Homo sapiens: one gene and its partners. The protein of the gene in region 4 purifies or fractionates together with the protein of the main gene of each other region. This does not show direct contact. Each region holds a gene or a part of one and is shown on either strand. Other genes may lie near its edges.

Region 1 (2,448 bases), on a different chromosome or scaffold from region 4:
ACTACACTCCAGCCTGGGCAACACAGCAAGACTCCGTCTCAAAAAAAAAAAAAAAAAAAATAGGTTAAGGTTGTATAGAATACTAGGCTTTCCTTTTTTTGTGAGATGGGGGTCTCACACTGTGGCTCAGGCTGGAGTGCAGTGGTGTGATCATGGCTCACTGCAGCCTCGAAGCCCCGGGGTCAAGTGATCCTCTCACCTCAGCCTCCTAGGTAGCTGGAACCACAGGCACGCAACCACCACTCCTGGCTAGTTTTATTTTTTTAGTAGAATAAGGTCTCACTATGTTGCACAGGCTGGTCTCTAACTCCTTACCTCAAGCCATCCTCCCGCCTTGGCCTCCCAAACATGTTGGGATTACAGGTGTGAGCCACTGGACCTGGCCAAATACTGGGTTTTCAGTGCTCACTGCCACTAATAAAAATCTGAAATTCTTTCATTATGCAATTTCTAAGTGCCTGGTGAGGGCCAAGCTCAGTTCTAGGCTCTGAAGATTAAGAGAGAAACAAGGCTCTGTCTGCTCCTGTTGTCTCTGTGAGCATCTTTGACAGAGTGCTCAGATTGTTGGGATATAGTGCATCGGACTGGCAGCCTGAATTTGTGGAGACCGCAGTCAGTAACTTTGTGATATATGGAATATTTAGAGGACAGTAACCCATTTCCCTACGCCCTACCTGATCACATCGTGCCCTGCTGGGCCATACCCCAAACAGCCCACCTTCCTCTAGGCCTGGCCATGGCCCTGTGCCTGCCACATTGAGGATTAAGTCAGGATATCTTGAGCCCTCTCAAATCCCTGTTTATTCAGGCCTCTGCCACATATAGAGCCAGCCTTCTGTCCCCACCACTTCCACTACCATGGAGCCCACTTAGTAAAACGCTCTCTGGGCCCAGCTTCGCCAGAAAAGACACCAGGGGAGCAAGGCTCAAACCAGGGGCAGCTAAATCTGATCTTGTGGACCAGTCTCTAGTAAGGGCTTTCAGCGTGGCTGTCTGTCCATTGCTTTCCAAATAGGATGCAGCAATGATTGGTACATGGGTATTAAGATCGGTAGTAGGGGCTAGTCCAAGTTTAGCAATAGCCAAACTGGAGAGCCTCTGAAGTATGAGAGTCCCAGAGGGATTTGTCAGCTCCTGGCAGACATCCTGATTTTCACCTTCCTGAGTCTACCCTACCCCAGAGGGTGCCAGTCTCACTGTGGTGATGGTTAGCCCAGTGTGTGCTGCACTCACACACCAGCACGGGGTCCGTGCTTGCAGGCTGGTGGATGCTGTCCTCTGGGTTAAGACTGTCTCCCTTCTCGGGAGCACTGGAGGGTTCTCCATCTGCGTGTTTCAGTGGAAGTTGGCAGATACGAAAACAGGCCCCTATAGGGAAGCAGTTCCATGAAAATGATTAATTCTTTCCAAAAGACTTAAAATTTTTTCCTATTTCAATTTTCCTTTCAAAAAAGGAAATACATTCATGTAGTTCAAAACTTAAGAAAACAAAAGTCTGTTCAGCAAAAGACTCCCACTCCGGTTCCCCAAACGCTGAGCCCCACCCCCCATCCCTGGTAGCAAGAAGTGTTTCCAATTTTAAGGTTAAGAAACAAAGTCCCTGGATTTGTGTTAGGGATGTCTTCCTGAGAGTGGGTTGTGTTCCGTTTGACCCTGGCGGTTGACCTCGGCCCACTAGGATCATGCCGCCCTCTCCAGGGAGGAGGGCCTCCCCATCACCCTGTACAGTGGCACCCCAGCCCTGGCACTGCCCGCCCTTGCTCAGCGTACCTTTCCCATGGCACTCTGACGTACTGGATGTTTGGTTTCTGAAGTTACTGGCTGTTTACCCTGCCGGGATGTAAGCCCCTCCAGGGCAGGGGCTTGTCTCGTGTTCAGTGCTGCATCCCAGCTGCTGGGCACGGTACCTGGTCCATGGCGTTCAATAAATAACTGTTGGATGAGTGAACGGTTGAGGCAAATGGCAGTTCATTCTAACAGTCTCAGCATGTGCTCTCCAGGTCCCTGTGCTCAGCACTTGGGAAGGAGAACCAGAATAGTGGTATTGGAAGCAGGAAGTGGGAAGGACCCGATGATGGCTCGTGGAGGCTGAGGGAGAGGAGAATGGCAGAGCTGGTGTTGGCAGGTGGAGCCCGTGTAACGAGGAGGCGCAAGGATGGGGCTCTCGAGAGAGGGAGGGGGTTTGGGAGGGTGGCAATCAGGAGTTTGGATGTGGAACGCATTCGGTTGGGGTTGTCCAAGCATCTCTGGGGGCAGATGTCCACCAGCCAGCTGGGAAACTGAGTGGGCAGGAGAGGAAATGAGTCTCCACCCAGAGATGATGATTGGAGGTGTGGGGGTGAGCGCTGTGGCCGAGGGACAAGAGGGTTGAGGACTGAGCCTGTGGGCAGGGGAGAGAGGAGCATCTGGACAGCGGGCGACTTCAAGTCAAGGAAGCACTTTCAGTGG
Region 2 (3,500 bases), on a different chromosome or scaffold from region 4:
GGTATTTTGTTTGTTTTTTGAGGCGGAGTCTCACTCTGTCACCCAGGCTGAAGTGCAGTGGAGCGATCTCCGCTCACTGCAACCTCTGCCTCCCGGGTTCAAGTGATTCTTCTGCCTCAGCCTCCTGAGCAGCTGGGACTACGTGCCACCACGCCCAACTAATTTTTGTATTTCTAGTAGAGATGGGGTTTCACCATATTGACCAGGCTGGTCTTGAACTCCTGACCTCGTGATCCGCCCACCTCGGCCTCCCAAAGGTGGCATGAGCCACCGCGCCCGGCCTGTTTTTTTGTTTGTTTGTTTGAGATGGAGTCTCGTTCTGTCAACTCTACTCCTAGATTCTAGTTATTTCACACACTAATACATGGTTTTTGTTTTTTTTAAAGAAGATCAACGCAATATGAAAGCATACAAATTCTGAGTGGGGTTGGCCACGGCAGGTTGTCTACAAAGTTATAACCTATACACCGGCTTTGTTTTATGTTTGATGGAAGTGTTTAAACATTATCAGCTTTTAAAAAATTATTCTTCAGAAGCTTAACTTCGTACAAATTAATTTTGTTTCCTAATCTAATTAAACTATATTTTTGTGTTTAGTTCATAAAATTACAAAGACAAATTTCACTATAAAAACACACAAAACTAATTCTATCAGGATCAGAATAGGAAATTCACTTAAAATTCTCTAAAACACAAACTTTCAAAGCTAAAAAAAGAAGGTGCCTGGGCAAGGTGGCTCACACAGTGGCTCAAGCACTTTGGGAGGCCGAGGCGGGTGGATCACCTGAGGTCAGGAGTTCAAGACCAGCCTGGCCAACATGGTGAAACCCTGTCTCTACTAAAAAATACAAAAATTAGCCAGGCATGGTGGCACGTGCCTGTAGTCCCAGCTACTTGGGAGGCTGAGGCAGGAGAATCGCTTGAACCCGGGAGGCGGAGGTTGTAGTGAGCCGAGATCGTGCCAATGCACTCCAGCCTGGGTGACAGAGCGAGACTCCGTCTCAAAAAAAAAAAAAGTAAAATAAATTTTAAAGAAAGAATATAAAATTGATTCTATTTCAAGAACATAATAAAAATGTAGGCATAGATTAGACTTTTTACATATAAAATCAATTTAACTATATCTAGAAGTTTAAAATATTATTTTACTGACTTTCACATAATAATAATAACACTTTAAATCAGATTCAAGTAGTTCTAAATTAAGTCAATCTTTAAGTGCTACTTACAATCCAGAAGGCAAATTACTAGCTGCAGTGATGCCAAAGAAATACTGCATAGCTTCAATGAGGAGAAAGTCAAATAAGGCTGACAAAACCCAGGAACCCAGCAAAAAGGACTACAAAATAAAACAGCAGAAAAATGATAGAGATGAGTCTCCTAAAAATAAACTAACATTTATTCAGCTAGAATCAGCTCAGAGGTGTGTATTCATATGTATGTGTGTGTGTGTATATACACACATGCATATGTGTGTATATATATTTGAAATTATTTGTTTTTATTAAAATAGACTTTAGAAAATGGGCGGGGTAAACCCATATTGCTCAAATGTATTAACAGCCATAATTTTTAAGTATGTTGAAGATATATTTTTAACAAGTAAAACACAAACCACTAAGCAAAATAAATTATAATTTTATTAAAGTCAAAGTATTAAAATTTGTATTAGTGTTCACAACTAATACTACATATTATCATTATCACTATTATTATTATGCTAATGTCTTACATTTTAAAATTTTCTTTGGTTAATGTCCATGTGCCTCAAATCAGATACAGAATAGTGTAATTAAAAAGATAACTGTAAATAACAACACCAAGTTTAACAAAATAAAATCCATTTAAACAAAATTTTTTTCTACAGCCTAAGTAGCAAAGACAAAATACATAAAAACTTACTGCAAATTTTCTGCTTCCATATCTTCTTTCAAATATCCTAAAATTATAAATAAGCAGACTACTGCAGAAAGTATCTTTCAAATCAAGGCAAATTATTCTTCCACATATCAACCTCCAAATCTAGATGGGGATTTAAAAAAGAACAATAAACAAGAGTAAAATTTGTTCGGGTCTCTTCCTTAGCAAATTTGTTATGTTTACACTGCCTATTTTTAATGTCCTAAACAAAATCATAATGCACACACCAAAGGAAAACTATATATGTATGTTCTCTGAGCTCAAGTCTCTCATAGTAAAAATTCCTCCCAACAGTGGCACGAAAGGTACTTGAATTTTTTTGTGCTTATAAGAAAACATATTCTCATTAAGATAACAGAAAACTGCCTATAAGAAATTTCAGGATCACGTTTAGTAAGATTTTTTAAAATTATATACGTAAACTAGAATGAAAGGCTAACAAATGTTCATTTTTATGTTATTGAATAAGACAAAGTTGTAACTGAAAAACAACTTAGGTATAAACTCAAAAATATGCATTTCTGAGCTTAATTTTAATCATCAACTTACTTCATAGCAACTATGCAAAGTAATTTATGGCAACTGCTGCTAAATATGACTAGGTTTGAAATATTAGTTTATTTAAATCATTGTTTCACCCAACTTCTGGCTGCATAAAAAACATATAAGGGGACATACAAAAAAAAAAAAAAAAAAAAAAGAGCTACTCAAAGGCCTATTTTTGAGTCTGCTTAAACATTTTTCAGATTTTTAAAGATAATCCCAATGACATCTCAAACATCCTAATCTTATTTCCCCTTCACAATGACCTTATGAGATAGGTAAAACAAATATTAATTCCAACTTTTCTTTGTATTTTTATTGTGGTAAAACAGATATAAAAGTTAAAATTTTGCTGGCTGCCCAGTCTGGAAAGTGAGGAGCGTCTCTGCCCGGCCGCCATCCCATCTAGGAAGTGAGGAGCGCCTCTTCCCGGCCGCCATCCCATCTAGGAAGTGAGGAGCGTCTCTACCCGGCCGCCCATCGTCTGAGATGTGGGGAGCACCTCTGCCCCGCCGCCCCGTCTGGGAGGTGAGGAGCGTCTCTGCCCGGCCGCCCCGTCTGAGAAGTGAGGAGCCCCTCCGCCCGGCAGCCACCCCGTCTGGGAAGTGAGGAGCGTCTCCGCCCGGCAGCCACCCCGTCCGGGAGAGAGGTGGGGGTCAGCCCCGGCCAGGCCAGCCGCCCCGTCGGGGAGGGAGGTGGGGGGGGTCAGCCCCCCGCCCGGCCAGCCGCCCCGTCCGGGAGGGAGGTGGGGGGGTCAGCCCCCCGCCTGGCCAGCCACCCCGTCTGGGAGGTGAGGGGCGCCTCTGCCCGGCCGCCCCTACTGGGAAGTGAGGAGCCCCTCTGCCCGGACAGCCGCCCCGTCCGGGAGGGAGGTGGGGGGGGCAGCCCCCCGCCCGGCCAGCCGCCCCGTCGGGGAGGGAGGTGGGGGGGTCAGCCCCCCGCCCGGCCAGCCGCCCCGTCTGGGAGGTGAGGGGCGCCTCTGCCCGGCCGCCCCTACTGGGAAGTGAGGAGCCCCTCTGCCCGGACAGCCGCCCCGT
Region 3 (3,500 bases), on a different chromosome or scaffold from region 4:
GTATGCCACACTGAAAAGTTGAATTACACAATTTAACACTAATTGTATACTTGAATTACTGACGGTTAGTTCACATTAGCCTAATCTCTCCAAATAAAGTCTGAGTTTCTTAAAAACAAGATAAAGACACTATAATTGTTATGCATTTTTATGGTGAAAACACAGAGGAATGAACCATACATATGGAATAATCCAAGACTGGGAGGTAAAGATGCCTTTGAAGACTGGGATAAAGACTAAAAATCCTGATTGTAAAGTTCATTCCATACCTACATGACAATTCCGAGTCAGTTAATCCTAACCACAGCAAAGACCCAAGTGAACTACACAAAATTAGCTTCAGGGTGATGCTGTACTACAATACAATGGAGATACCAGATGAGGGTTTCCTTCTGTATAGGGTCCACGGAATCAGTCATGCTTCATTTTTTAACAACATTGGCTAATGAGAGAGCAAATGTTAATGGAATCTAAATCACTGAATTGAGTAAAAGGATCTGAAAATATTTTATTAAGCAAAATTATGAGCCAAACACTTTGCTAGGCACCTTCACACAAATCACAGTCTTTAATATGAGCAGAATGTGTGAACGATTTATCTATATAAATATTTAAGAAATATTCACTGAGCAACTACATAAACTGAAAATACACAATGAGATAAAGTTTAAATGAGAAATACTAGGATAAGCAAAAAGAAAGTAGAGCAAGCTCTAAACAACTAGACCATGAAAAAATGTTAAATGAAAAAAAAAAACACCCAAAAATATGGTACAGACACTAGATAAAATTAAGTATTAATAAAAAATGGACTTAAACACAAACAAGTTTAGAACCCATAGTGAGACACAATGACTCTTTGAGGTAGGTCAAATATAATGCGTTACTATTAATAAAATTGTATTTTTAAGAAAGTATATTCAATAACATCCCTCTAAGTAAATGAATCTCACTCAGCTGCATTTCTATATGCCTTTCAGAAAGATACAAAAAGTAGTGGAGATAAAGTCAGAGTTGCTATAATTGCGTACAAACCACAGACACATGTAATCTTCCTACTGGACTCTCCTGAGAATCACTGATATTAAAGGTTAAGAATGAATGTAATAGAATTTTCATGTTTGATATTGTAAAGTTGACAATGAATAAGATTTAAGTTAAAAAATAAGTCAGGCTTTATTGATGCAATCCAAATACACTGGGTTGTATTACTGACTACAGGAAAGCATGCAGTACTTTGCTTGGATCTAAATTAGCTCTTTGAATCTAAACAAATGAAAAGCCCACCCCGATTTAAACAGAGTAAAAATGCTACCTTTCAACGTGTGCAGGAGGTACTGCATTGCTAAGTTACTGGCTGCTAAAGTCACCTTTCAGTTGTTAAACCCAAGGGCCTCTTTTCAGCCTTCATTCTATTTGCCCTTACTCTACAACTCCTGACATAGCTGAACATTTCCTTCTTTTAATTTTCCTGTTAGCATCTTCTTTTTTAAACCTTCCTGTGTTTTCCCACCCTTCTGAGCTCAGTCTCTTTTTCTAGTTCTTCCATTCATACTTTATATCCTGTTGTCCCCTGGGTTTTGTCCAAACTGCCTTCTCGTCTAACAAGAAAAGTCTTCCCTGGGTGATTTCATCCATTCCCATACTTTACTACCTACTATTCATAATTGTGATGTCTAAATATCCATCTCATTTGAACATGCTTTTTCTTTTGCAAATCTTCTGGTTTCTACATACTCTGCCTAAAGAATCCATCTTTCCTCCCCCTGGCAAAAACCTCAGGCTTTAAGATCTAAAGTGTCACTACCTCAGTGAAGTCTTCACCAACTTTCCCAAATAGCGTTAGTTAATATCCTAGTTTAGAAATCACTTTGAAGTACACCATCTCATGAGATCCTCACAAAAGAGGCAAGTATTATCACATCCCGTCTAGAAATGAGGAAACTGAGGTTTGAAGAGATCAGCAACTTGAACAAGGAAGCACTACTACAAATGGAAAACATCAACTTAAATCCAGGTCTTCTAACTCTGGGCCCAGTGTTTTTTGTTTTTTCTTCCCATTTTCATTTATAGAGACAAGGTCTCACTATGTTGCCCAGGCTGGTCTGGAACTCCTGGGTTCAAGCAATCCTCCTGCCTGGGCCTCCCAAAATGCTAAGATTACAGGCAGGGGCCACCATTCCCAGCCTCAGTCTTCCTTCTAATACACCAAGATGCTCTCAAAGGAAAAGAGATTTACAAATTTAGTAGCTTTACTATTGTAATTAAGAAAAATTAATTAGTCTTGTCTGTTTCTAGAAATTAATTCCTAATTAAATGTTTAATCCAGTAACAGAATTATTAAAATTATTTTTAATTATAGGCACACATACCCAAATTGGTTAAAAGAAGTTTTTTTTTAAATGAAGAAAAACAACTTAGAAAAAAACAGAAAATAAAAGTTGAGAATATTTTAAAAAGAAGGAAGGGGCCAAGCACAGTGGTACACGCCTCCAATTCCAGCACCTTGGGAGGATGAGGCAGGCGGATTGCTTGAGCCTAGGAGTTCAAGACTAGCCTGGGCAACATGGCAAGACCCCATCTCTACAATAAATACAAAAATTAGCTGGGCATGGTAGCATGCACCTGTAGTCCCAGCTACTCGGAAGCCTGAGGTGGGAAGGATCACTTGAGCCCAGATGGTTGAGGCTGCAGTGAGCCATGATCACACCACTGCACTCCAGCCTAGGCAACAGAGTAAGACATGTCTCAAAAAATAAAAAATAAGAGTACAAAAATAAGTTCTTTACATTTTAAATAAAGAAATTGAAAATCTTGAAGCCAATAATCTAATACACAGGCCTTTTTAGCCAATAAATTAGGTATAGGATCTACTTTCATAAAGCCATCTAATTCTGCTTCTGTTTGAAGAGAGGAGAAGATAAATAATATTGATAAATAAGATTAAATTCAGAAAACAAAAATTGCCGATAATACTATGACTAGGAAGTACCTAGGCATCATTGAGATGGTTAGTGAAGGATCAGTGAACACAGAGCTCTAGGCCAAGAAGCCAAAGAGCAGAACAGCAGAGGGAGTTGCAGCTGAAACATTACCATTTTGCAGCCATTGTGGAAAAGACAGGTTCAGGAGATTGATCAATGGTTGTTAAATGTAGAAGTGGTCCATTTAAAAAAGAGCAAGACATCTGCATGGTCTCAGTGTCTCCCCACAGATAATTTGAAAAAAAAAAAAAAAAAAACAGAAATGACACCACAGAGAAACTGGACAACCCTGTGACTAGGAAAATTAACATCATGAAGATGGACAACCTATGCCTCCAAATGTAATAGTTCAAGAAGCATGCATCACCTATGGTAGTATCCCAGCCAAGGATACATAACCTGAATCTAAACATGAGGAAACACCAGCAAACCCAAAAACTGATTAACATAAAATAAAATAATAGGCTTTGCAATCCTTAGATATGTCAAATTCATGAAAGACAAAAAAGGCTAAGG
Region 4 (3,500 bases):
AGTGGTGCAATCTCGGCTTACTGCAACCTCCACCTCCCGGTTCAAGCGATTCTCCTGCCTCAGCCTCCTGACTATCTGGGATTATAAGCGCCCACCAACACGCCCAGCTAATTTTTGTATTTTCAGTAGAGATGGGGTTGTGCCATGTTGGCCAGGCTAGTCTCGAACTCCTGACCTCAGGTGATCCGCCCACCTTGGCCTCCCAAAATGCTGGGATTACAGGCGTGAGCTACCGTGCCCGGCCCCAAAATAGTTTTATAACAAGGTCATTAGCAACCAAAATGTAAAAGAAATAATTTGTGATCCTGCCACCCCAATCAACGAAGCTTTTTTCCTTCCTTCCTGGCCCCTCCCCGTAGTGTCCATGATAGACATGCCTCACTGGTACATCCCTGCTTCTGTCAGGAGCCCTGCATGGGTGCCACAAAATCTATACAATTTTGAATGGATGCTTGATAGTCTACCAACCTGAATATACCACATTCAACTCAAATGATCCCTACCATTCAGTATTTAGATAGTCTATTAAAATATATATGTATGCATGTGTGTGTATATATACATATAATGTGTGTGTGTGTGTGTGTGTGTGTGTGTGTGTGTGTGTGTGTGTGTGTATGGCATTACTATAAGGACTTTGTAATAAATGTGGCCATGCCTGCTCAGGGCTTAAAAGCAAGGATGTGAGCTGAGCAACATGACCCACTGGTTTAGTTCCCCGCACACACCCCACTCCTGTCCCCACTCCTTCCCCACCCACCAAGCCCTCTTCTCACCAGCTATCCTGGGAGGGGCCTTGCAGAACAGTTACTCACATTCAGCGCATGGATGGGTTTGGTGACATTAAACTTGTCCATGGTGGACAGGATGATGGAGGGTGTGGTCAGGAAAAATAGCCCCAGGAAGAGGGTGAAGTTGATGCCCAGCCACTGTAGCCACCAGCGGAGGCCCTGGATAGAGAGGTTCTTCCTGCAGCGGGAGAGGGGATACAGGTCTCGAGGCTTGTCTCCCAGTGCTCGTGGCTTAGGTGGGTCAGAAGGTCAGATTTAGGCAGACCAAGAGACTAGCCTGGGGGCAAGTTCTCTGCACTGACCTTCAACTACAGAAAGACCAAATCTTAGGTCCCCAAGAGCTCAGAGGGAACAATTATTCTCTCAGATGTGGCTCCCCAGCTAAAGTCTGGGGGCCAGAACCTACCCAAAGAGATGGCATGAGCACCCAAGCAGGCCAAACAAGGCTCCAGCATGGCATTTATTTTTTCTTTTTCTGTTTTTTTTTTTTTGGAGACAGAGTCTTGCTCAGTCACCCAGGCTAGAGTGCAGTGGTGTGATCTCGGCTCACTGCAACCTCTGCCTCCCAGGTTCAAGCAATTCTCCTGCTCAGCCTCCCATGTAGCTGGGACTATAGGCGTGTACCACCACACCCAGCTAATTTTTTTGTATTTTTAGTAGAGACAGGGTTTCACCATGTTACCCAGGGTGGTCTTGAAATCCTGAGCTCAGGCAATCCGCCTGCCTCAGCCTCTCGAAGTGCTGGGATTACAGGTGTGAGCACCACGCCCGGCCCCAGCGTGGCATTTCTTAGACACATCTGCAATGCTTTGTGACTAACGACACATTCTTCCCAACGGGGCTGTAGCTGGGGTACAGGAAGGAGGAAGGCAGGGACAAAGGAGTGAAGGCATAGCTTGCACCTGCCCTGGCCTCTCATCCCAAAGAACAGACCCACAAAGCAATCCTGAGTTTAGGAAGCCTTGTGAACCAAAGAGCAAAACTGTCAGAGGCAGAACTAGAACCGAGCAGAGGGGAGCACTTCAAGCTCATTCTGTGCAAGGAGCTGAGGCAGGGCTGGACAGGCAGCTGCGCTGGGGCTTGCGCTGGGTGCCCTTACCCTCAGCACAGCACTGGAGGCTCACCAGGGCCCCCATGGACACAGCTCAGCTCCCCAGCACGGCCCCAGGCTGACACTGGACCTAAGTAAGGCTGCACAAGCTGCATGCGGCTACTGAGCATTTTAAATGTGGCTGGTGTGAATTGAGAGGTGCTAGAAGTGTAAAATACACACCAGATATTGAAGACTAAGTGTGAAAAAGAGAATGTAAAACATCTCACATTTTTCAAAAATTGCATGTTGAAATAACAGTTTGGATATATTGGGCGAGATACATTATTAAAATTAATTTCAACTGTTTCTTTTTACTTTTTTAGCATGGCTATTAGGAAATTTAAAATTAGATGCAGAACTGGCATTATATTTCTGCTGGGTAGCACTTGAATGCTAGGGAGGAACACTGGAGGGAAGGGCTGGGCAGATACCCCAGTTGGGCCACACCGAGCACATCACAGCATCACAGCCCACAGAATTGCAGATGTGTGGAGATCTCCATTGACTGCCAGGTCACACCTGTGCTCCAGGTGATGGGCAGCTCCCACCAGGAACCCAGGCCTCTCTCCCACCTCTCCTTGGTCTAGGAGCTTACCAGCAGATGTCCTCAGGGTCAGCAGCAAAGGTGACTGTCCACTTGGAGGTATAGAGCTCCCTGCTATGGGAGGACGGCTGGGGCTCACCTTTGCACTGAAGGCTCTGACACTTGCAGGCATTGAAATCTTTCAGGATGCTGCAAGGAAATGTAGCAACAGCCAGGCCCAGGCTACTCAGGTTACCAAGCACACATGTGGCAAGTGGGGACTGAGTAGGAGTGGGAGGCAGTGGCATAGGACCTTTGCTTTGTTGTGATTAGTGTATTATGAGTAACGCTATGTAAGAGGTGCCACGCTAGCACAGTGTGTGGAGAATTTTGTTTAATCCTCGCAACCACCAGCAACAAAGGGAGTACGATTCCCATTTTACAGATAAGGAAACTGAGGGCAACACACTGCTCTTCCATAGGGCCATCCCCCTCCACCCTGCCTGTTAAGCTGGAGCTCTGATCAGTGCTACTGCCAGGCCAGTGGCTCAACTTTTCATTCTGTCACTTTTTCCCCAGGCCCAAGTGTAGCAATAGACCACGTTACACATTGCCTGTTCCCAAGCTTCCCTCCTCAGGGCTCCCACCTCGACCCTCACCATCTCAACAGGTCACAGCTTTTCCTCCTTTAACCTCCCGTAAGGAGCCCAGCAGCCCCTCTACTCCTGCCTCAGATGCCTTCCCCTTTCCTCCTGCCCCAGTGTCTGCAAGGAGGCAGGAAGTCCTGTGTGAGTCCATTCCTAGTGTCACAATGCCTGGGGCAGTGGCTGGACACCTTTCCACACCCCTCTCCCGACCCACCCTGTGCTGCTCCTAAGGCGAGATGACACTGAGACCACAGGCATGAGAGCCTAGAGTCCCATGCCAAGGGCCACTGTGAAAAGCCACTCCCCAGGGTCAAGCTCCCCACTGCAGTGAGCGCCCCAGCGTGCCCCAGGGGTCTTCCCCACAGCTTTGCATTTGTGGGAAGGTGGGGAGCCACAGACAGAAGGATCTGTGGCCCAGAGCAGATGTCTGAAAGGAGGGTGCCTCC

Evidence for each region. Proteins that work in one complex are often made in the same cells at the same time.
Region 1: the proteins of TMEM63A (region 4) and AP3S2 purify together in Homo sapiens (affinity purification with mass spectrometry; 2 studies listed by BioGRID and IntAct, with this or other methods). This does not show direct contact.
Region 2: the proteins of TMEM63A (region 4) and UBAC2 purify together in Homo sapiens (affinity purification with mass spectrometry; one large-scale study listed by BioGRID and IntAct). This does not show direct contact.
Region 3: the proteins of TMEM63A (region 4) and AP3B1 purify together in Homo sapiens (affinity purification with mass spectrometry; 2 studies listed by BioGRID and IntAct, with this or other methods). This does not show direct contact.

The regions. Positions count from the first base shown.
Region 1 is NC_000015.10:89,830,099-89,832,546, reverse strand, and holds the end of AP3S2 (AP-3 complex subunit sigma-2), read left to right. Parts: 3' UTR 1-1,948; downstream 1,949-2,448. UniProt on the Homo sapiens protein: Part of the AP-3 complex, an adaptor-related complex which is not clathrin-associated. The complex is associated with the Golgi region as well as more peripheral structures.
Region 2 is NC_000013.11:99,242,354-99,245,853, reverse strand, and holds part of UBAC2 (ubiquitin-associated domain-containing protein 2 isoform 1 precursor), read right to left. Parts: intron 2,023-3,500; coding exon 1,903-2,022; intron 1,340-1,902; coding exon 1,230-1,339; intron 1-1,229. UniProt on the Homo sapiens protein: Restricts trafficking of FAF2 from the endoplasmic reticulum to lipid droplets.
Region 3 is NC_000005.10:78,288,199-78,291,698, forward strand, and holds part of AP3B1 (AP-3 complex subunit beta-1), read right to left. Parts: intron 1-3,500. UniProt on the Homo sapiens protein: Subunit of non-clathrin- and clathrin-associated adaptor protein complex 3 (AP-3) that plays a role in protein sorting in the late-Golgi/trans-Golgi network (TGN) and/or endosomes.
Region 4 is NC_000001.11:225,858,381-225,861,880, forward strand, and holds part of TMEM63A (mechanosensitive cation channel TMEM63A), read right to left. Parts: intron 2,618-3,500; coding exon 2,480-2,617; intron 970-2,479; coding exon 816-969; intron 1-815. UniProt on the Homo sapiens protein: Mechanosensitive cation channel with low conductance and high activation threshold. In contrast to TMEM63B, does not show phospholipid scramblase activity. Acts as a regulator of lysosomal morphology by mediating lysosomal mechanosensitivity.